Linked DNA regions of Homo sapiens. The gene in region 1 interacts genetically with each later gene. Each region holds a gene or a part of one and is shown on either strand. Other genes may lie near its edges.

Region 1 (3,655 bases):
CTACCTGGGCCTCCCAAAGTGCTGGGACTATAGGCAATTAATAAAGTATTCTTTCTGATTAGAAAAATTATATACACTAATTGAAGATTATTTTAAATTCAGAGAAATTTTTACAAGTCCAAGAACACCATCACTCCATTCATATTATGAATATTTTTATTGTATTTTTACGTTGGCTCTTTGTGGTGTGTGTGTGTAAAATACATTTTGGATCACTCAAATGTATTTTAAAGATTAATGTCTATGCAGGCTGTCCTTCCCTTTCCCCTCTGCCTGCTGAGCCTAAGGCCTTAAGAATACTTTAAGGAGTAAAGTACTAAATCATTAATTCATCCTGAGCTAGTGGCTTTATTAATGAGTATCTCACAAATACCACAAAAATTCAACCTGGCCATGTGGAGCAATATAAAATTATGGCATTTCTTGGTATGTTTTTCTCTTTGGCGAGGAGACAACTTGATCTTGTGTTTCCAGAAGCATGTTAATTGCCCTGCTTGCAGAATCTCTCTGGCTTGAAAGGAGATTATATTCATGGCAGTCTGTGAATTTTCATTTTATTTCATTTATTTATTTGAGACAGAGTCTCACTCTGTTGCCCAGGCTGGAGTGCAGTAGTGCGATCTCAGCTCACTGCAACCACTACCTCCCAAGTTCAAGTGATTCTCCTGCCTCAGCCTCCTGAGTAGCTGGGACTACAGGTGGCTACCACCACGCCCGGCTAATTTTTTTGTACTTTTAGTAGAGACAGGGTTTCACCATGTTGGCCAGGCTGGTCTTGAACTCCTGACCTCAAGTGATCTGCCCATCTTGGCCTCCCAAAGTGCTGGGATTACCGGCGTGAGCCCCTGTTCCCAGCTTGAATTTTCATCTTAAAAAAGACCTTATGTTGTCCTATGTGCTACATATTTCATTACCAGTGTACCTTTCCTGCCATGTCTCATTCTAGATGTGTCTCTTCGTTGTTTGCAGGGGAGGAGTTGTGTGGGGTAATGACAATCTCGGACTCTCCAAGAGAACAGGATAGTGAATCACAGGTAGACGGAAACCTCCAAATCCTTTTTTTTACATTACAGATTCTAGTTATTTAATTTGTTAGCTTTTTTTTTTTTTTGCTGCCAGATAAACTGACAAGGGGCAGAAACTTACTGAAAATTTTGAGAACTGTAGAAAAAATTCACACAAAAAAAGTTAAAAATGTGACTTAATTTTTAAAATGTGACTCCTTCAGTTTTCTATACATTTGAATTTTATTTTAAGACCCGAGATGAAGATACTGGAATAGTTGGAGGGTGGAGGGGGTAATAAGCCTCCTACCAAATCTTCTAGCAGCCGTGCCAGCCTGGATGGGGGAGTGGTTTGGAGAAAGAGTCTAGCAGGAATGGAAAAAGCCAAGCCTTTTCCTTTAGCTTAATGTTTCAAAAATGCTTCTCCTTGGTGATGAGGTGTAAGCAGCAAACTCTCACAATCTAGCCATCTCTGTGTTTTTGTCTCAGTGAACCAGCAGAAACATGTAATTTTTAGGCATAATAACTTCTCTTTATGTAATCAACAATCCACCAAATACATCCTGACTTATTAGACGATCTGCTCCTCCTCATGGTAGGAAGAAGAGGAAATCCTGAATATCTGAAGTAGGCTTGAGAGAGATTATTCACTAGTGTGGGCTCCTGAGAAAATTACCAGACCTCTTTCATCTGAAAGTCAAGGATTAACCCAAGTAATGTGGTACTTTCTAAACAGTATAGCATGCTACAAGCATTGTCCCCACTGAAGAGCTAAAAACACTGTCTTAATATCTTAGTAAATCTTAGTATCTTTTTCCTTTTTTAATGTTTTATTGAGACAGGGGTCTTGCTACGTTGCCAAGCCAGGTCTCGAACTCCTGGCCTCAAGCAATCCTCCTGCCTTGGCCTCCCAAAGTCTGGGATTATAGGTACTAGCCACCGTGCCTGGCCAAATCTTAGTGTCTTAGTATCTCAGTAAATACACTTAATATGCTTAATAAATACTTAGAACACAACTGTAAATAATAAAAACTTAACATACTTGGTACAAACTTAATCAAATATTTAATATCTTAGAGTTAACATATTAAGATAACAGGTTATTTGCCCAAAGTCATAAGGTGAAGTAGAGGCAGGAATTGGGCTTCCTAGCCTGGAGTCCTTTTCTCCACCTCAAGGGGCTACGCAGACCTCCAACTAAATGCTGAGTTTCTCGGTACTGAAACAGCCCTAGGAGAATGAATAGGACACAGCGCCATCCCTGGCCAGTACTATCAGGTACTACAGTTTGGATACCATAACCTACAGTGTAGCCAGGACCTCCCTGACCAGCCCATCTCTTCCCAGCAGCCACCGTGGTCCTGAGAGCTGGGTTAAGCCATCACCTTTAAAATCCTGGGACCACACTGTGCAATGCATGAATGGGAGACCCTCAGCTGTTAGCCACGAAGCACAGATGAGTTCAGTAGACAGCCAAGAGAATCACAAGTCATGGCGTGGGGGCAGCCAAAGACATTCATTCATTCAGTGACTCTTGATTGAGCTCTCACAAGTTAATACACCGTAGTCCCTGGCACAGATGTTATGAACCTCAAGGAGTCTTCTGTATAGTATGGGAAGCAGAAATGAGAACAAACAATAATACAATGTGATGACAACAATATTAATATATGTGCAAAGTGCTCAGGAGGCCCAGGTATTGGGACACTGACTTTACAACGATGGGGCAGAAGTCTGAGAGGTCCTGTGTGAAGGAAATAGGTAGAAACTAGTTCTTCGAGGAAACGACCCCGAGTTGGGGTGGTGCAATGGAAAGCAAGTCCTCTTACTAGGGAGTTGTTTGTTTACATCTCTAGTGTTTGACCCACAGAGTCAGCTCCTGGGTTGGGTTTTTGTTTTCCAGACTTTGGACAAAGTTTACCAAATGAAAAGCAAACCTCGGGGATACTGTCTGATCATCAACAATCACAATTTTGCAAAAGCACGGGAGAAAGTGCCCAAACTTCACAGCATTAGGGACAGGAATGGAACACACTTGGATGCAGGTACAGTAGAACCCAAAAGAGAAAAGTAAAATATTTCTTATGCCTATTTTTTTTTAAATCAAAAGGGAGAGAACAAAAGCTATACCAAAAGGGCCATGTTTCAAGAAAATGGATTTAAACATATTTCCCTGTGGAGGTAAAGAACATTCTTATACATTTATCAGTTTCCTGCTTTTTTTAAAAATTAATTTTTTAAATAAAAGTAATGTATGTATAAATATAAAATATCAAATCTTACTAAAAGACATAATGAAAAGCAGTAATAAGCTTTGTTTTGAATTCAGCTAAATGCATAGCGCTTCTGTGGAATGTATTAGGCGATGAAATTGCTGTGGTATCAAAGTTCTTATAGAGGCTGCATTTTTACAGGTTGGGCTGTTAAGTGCAGCAGAAATTGTGGGTTCTTAACAGAAATAGCATTTTCAAGTATTAAATATTAAACTGGTTAGCAATTCTTTTGCTCAGCCAAATTAAGCTAAGATCAAGAACTTACAAGTTAAATGAAAAAACAATTTGTAGTATGTGAATATAAAAAGTGACTACAACAACAAAAAATAAAAATCATCCATCACCATTGAGAGATTAATAATTTTGATTTGATCAAAG
Region 2 (3,655 bases), on another chromosome or scaffold:
GATTTCTTGGGTGTGATAATACTGTGGTTTGTAGGAGAATGCCCTTGTTCAAAGGAGAACAAGTGTCAAAGCAAAGTTGAAGTGAAGTGATATTTTCATTCAGCTTAAAATTTAAAAAAATAAAGGGCAAACAACTACATAAAGGCCAATAAACACACACATATCTGGTAGATAAGGCCAATGAAGAGTATATGGTTATTTATTATACTCTTTTTTCAGTTTTTCTGTAGATTCGAGTTTTCAAAATTAAAAATTGGGGGAACTGTTACTGTGTAGAAATCTGAGGTCAGCCTGATAGTCTTCTCACTCACATAGGTGATTCACTTTCTTTCAGGTAGACTCAGAGATAAAATTTGCATAACATAAGAATCATCACTTTAACCATTTTAAAATGTAAAATGCAGTGCTTTTTAGTATATTCACAAGGTTGTGCAACCATCGCCCCTAATTCCAGAACATTGCATCACCACGGGGAAAAAAAAACAAAACACCTCTGTACCACCTAGAATCACTCTTTATTCCTTTCTTGCTCCATTCCCAGACAACCTCGAATCTACTTTCTGTCTTTAGGGATTGCCTTTTTGGACATTTTATATAAATGGAATCATATAACATGTAGTCCTTTGGGTCTGTCTGCTTTCATTTAGCACGTTTTCAAGGTTCATAGCATCTATCAGTACTTTATTCCTTTTTATGGCTGAATAATATTCTGTTGTGTGTATGTATTACATTTCGTTTATCCATTCATCCACTCATGGACATTTGGGTTGTTTCTACTTTTTCATCATTATGAATAATACTGCTGTGAACAATCTTGTACCAGTTTTTGTGTGACCATATGTTTTCAATTTCTTAGATATATATGGAGGAATAGAATTGTTGGAGCATATGGTAACTCTTCATTTAACTTTTTGAGAAACTGTGAAATGATTTTTCCAAAGCACCTGTACCATTTTACGTTCCCATCAGTAATGTAAGAGGGTTCCAATTTCTCTACAACCTTGCCAACACTTACTGCCTCCCCTTTTTGCTATGGCCATCCTAGTGTGTATGAAGTCTTATCTCATTTTGCTTTTGATTTTCATCTCTCTAAAGACTAATGATCTTGAGCATATTCTTATATGCTTATTGGCCATTTCTTTATAACAGTATCCGGATATTTTGTCCATGCTTTAACTGGCTTGTTTTTATTGTTGAGTTGTTAGAGTTCTTTTACATTCTGGACACTAGAACCTTGTCAGGTACCTGATTTGCAAATATTTTATCCCATTCTGTGGGAGAAAATTCCCCCATTCTTTTGTTTTCTTGTTAGTGTCGTTTGATGTACTCAAGTTTTAGATTTTGATGAATTCCAGTGGATCTATAATTTCTCTTTTGTTGCCTATGCTTTTAGTGTCAAATTTAAGAAACTGTTGCCTGATGTAAGATTGTAAAGATTTATACTTTATGCTTTCTTTTAGGAGTCCCAGCCTCCTAAGTAGCGGGGACTACAGTCTTAAAGTTTAGCTCTTATATTTAGGTCTTTGTCCATTTTGAGTTAATATTTGTATATAGTATGATGTAGGGTGCAAATTCAAATGTTTGTATGTGAATATTCAGATTCCAGCACCATTTGTTGAAGATATGTTTTACTATTAGATGGTCTTGGCACCTTTGTTGAAAATAAATAGGTCATAGATGTATGGGTTTATTTCTGGAATCTCAATTCTTTTTTTTTCCTTTTTTTTTTCTTCCCCTGTGGACTCAATTCTTTTATTTCATGGATCTATATGTCTGTGCTATGCCGTTACCACACTATGTTGATTACTGTAGCTTTATAGTGAATTTTGACATTAGAAAATATGAGTTGTCCAAGTTTGTTCTTTTTTTCAAGGTATTTTGGTTATTTGTGGCCCCTTGTTTTTCTGTCTTTTAGGATTATCTTATTTCTGCAAGAAAAAAATTTGGAATTTTAAAAGAGATTACATTGGGGAGTATTTCCATTTTAGTATATATTGAGTATTCTTTATTCAAGGTGCTTGGGACCAAAAGTTTTGTGGATTTTACATTTGTTTGGATTTTGGAATATTTGCATATGCATATTGAGATAACTTACAGATGGGACTCAAGTTGAAACATGAATAATTTTATTTATGCTTCATATATACCTGATACAGATAGCCTGAAGGTAATTTTATACAATGTTTTAAATAATTTTGTGCATGAAACAAAGTTTGTACATTGAACTATCAGAAAGCAAACCTGTCAGGTATGAAATTTTCAGTTTGTCACATGATGTCAGCACCTGAAAAGTTTTGGAGTTTGGAACATTTTGGATTTCAGATTTGAGATTAAGGATGCTAAACCTCTAATAGTAACTCTTCTAATCCAATAACATGGGGCCTTTTTTTTCCCATTTTTTTAGGGTCTTTAATTTCTTTCAAGAATATTTTGTAGTTTTCAGTGTTCAAGTCTTGCACTTCCTAGGTTAAATGTAATCCTGTTTATTCTTTTTTTTTTTATCCTGATGCTGATGTAAATGGAATTTTTTAAAATTTTATTTTCAAATTGTTCATTGCTATATGCAAATGAATTTTGTATATTGATCTTGTATCCTGAAAATTTGCTGAATTCATTAACTCCAGTAGTTTTTTTGACAAATTCTTTAGGTTTTTTAATATATTAAGATTACATTATTTGGCAGGGCGTGGTGGCTCACGCCTGTAATCCCAGCACTTTGGGAGGCCGTTGCGGGTGGATCATGAGGTCAAGCGTTTGAGACCTGCCTGGCCCACATAGTGAAACCCCGTCTCTACTAAAAATACAAAAAATTAGCTGGGCGTGGTTGCGGGCACCGGTAATCCCAGCTACTCGGGAGGCTGAGGCCGGAGAATCACTTGAACCTGGGAGGCGGAGGTTGCAGTGAGCCGAGATGACGCCACTGCACTCCAGCCTGGGCGACAGATCAAGACTCCGTCTCAAAAAAAAAAAAATTACATTGTTTATCAATAGAGATACAGGAAATTGTTTTACTTTTTTTTTTTTTTTTAACCCAGATGCCTTTTAATTCTTTTTGTTTAGTTGTCCTGGCTAGGACTTCCAACATTATGTTGAACAGAAATAGAGTCTTTGTCTTGTTCTTGATCTTAGGGTTAAGTTTCGAGTCTTTCAGCATTAAGTATGATGTTAGCTGTGGGGTTTTTGTTTTTATGGTGAAAGAGTATTGGATTTTGTCAAATGTTTTCTCCGTCTATTGAGATAATCATGTGGATTTTTTTTCCCTTTATTAATATAGCTTGACCTCCTGTGCCCAAGTGATCCTCTCATCTCAGCCTCCTAAGTAGCTGGGACTACAGGTGTACACTATCATACCCAGCTAACTTTTTAAAAATGTTTTTGTAGAGATGCAGTCTCTGTGTTTACCAGGCTGGCCTTGACCTTCTGGGCTCAAGTGATCCTCCTGAGTAGTGGGTACTACAGGTGTGCACCACCATGCCCAGCTAAATTGACAGTTTTCATCAGTCTGTTTATTTTGTCTAATGTTAGTATATCCACATCAGCTCACCAGCTATCTTGTGTATTTTCCTTTTTTTAGATGGAGTCTCACTATGTTGCCTAGGCTAGACTGTAGTGGCTACTTAAAGGCACGATCATAGTGCAATGCAGCCTCAAATTC

The links. A genetic interaction does not mean that the proteins touch.
Region 2: changes in CASP8 (region 1) and CHEK1 together harm fitness more than expected from each alone (negative genetic interaction), as found in Homo sapiens cells (one large-scale study listed by BioGRID).

What each region holds. Positions count from the first base shown.
Region 1 is NC_000002.12:201,273,920-201,277,574, forward strand, and holds part of CASP8 (caspase-8 isoform 2 precursor), read left to right. Parts: intron 1-969; coding exon 970-1,034; intron 1,035-1,603; exon of another isoform or gene 1,604-1,717; intron 1,718-2,907; coding exon 2,908-3,049; exon of another isoform or gene 3,050-3,623; intron 3,624-3,655. UniProt on the Homo sapiens protein: Thiol protease that plays a key role in programmed cell death by acting as a molecular switch for apoptosis, necroptosis and pyroptosis, and is required to prevent tissue damage during embryonic development and adulthood.
Region 2 is NC_000011.10:125,645,623-125,649,277, forward strand, and holds part of CHEK1 (serine/threonine-protein kinase Chk1), read left to right. Parts: intron 1-3,655. UniProt on the Homo sapiens protein: Serine/threonine-protein kinase which is required for checkpoint-mediated cell cycle arrest and activation of DNA repair in response to the presence of DNA damage or unreplicated DNA.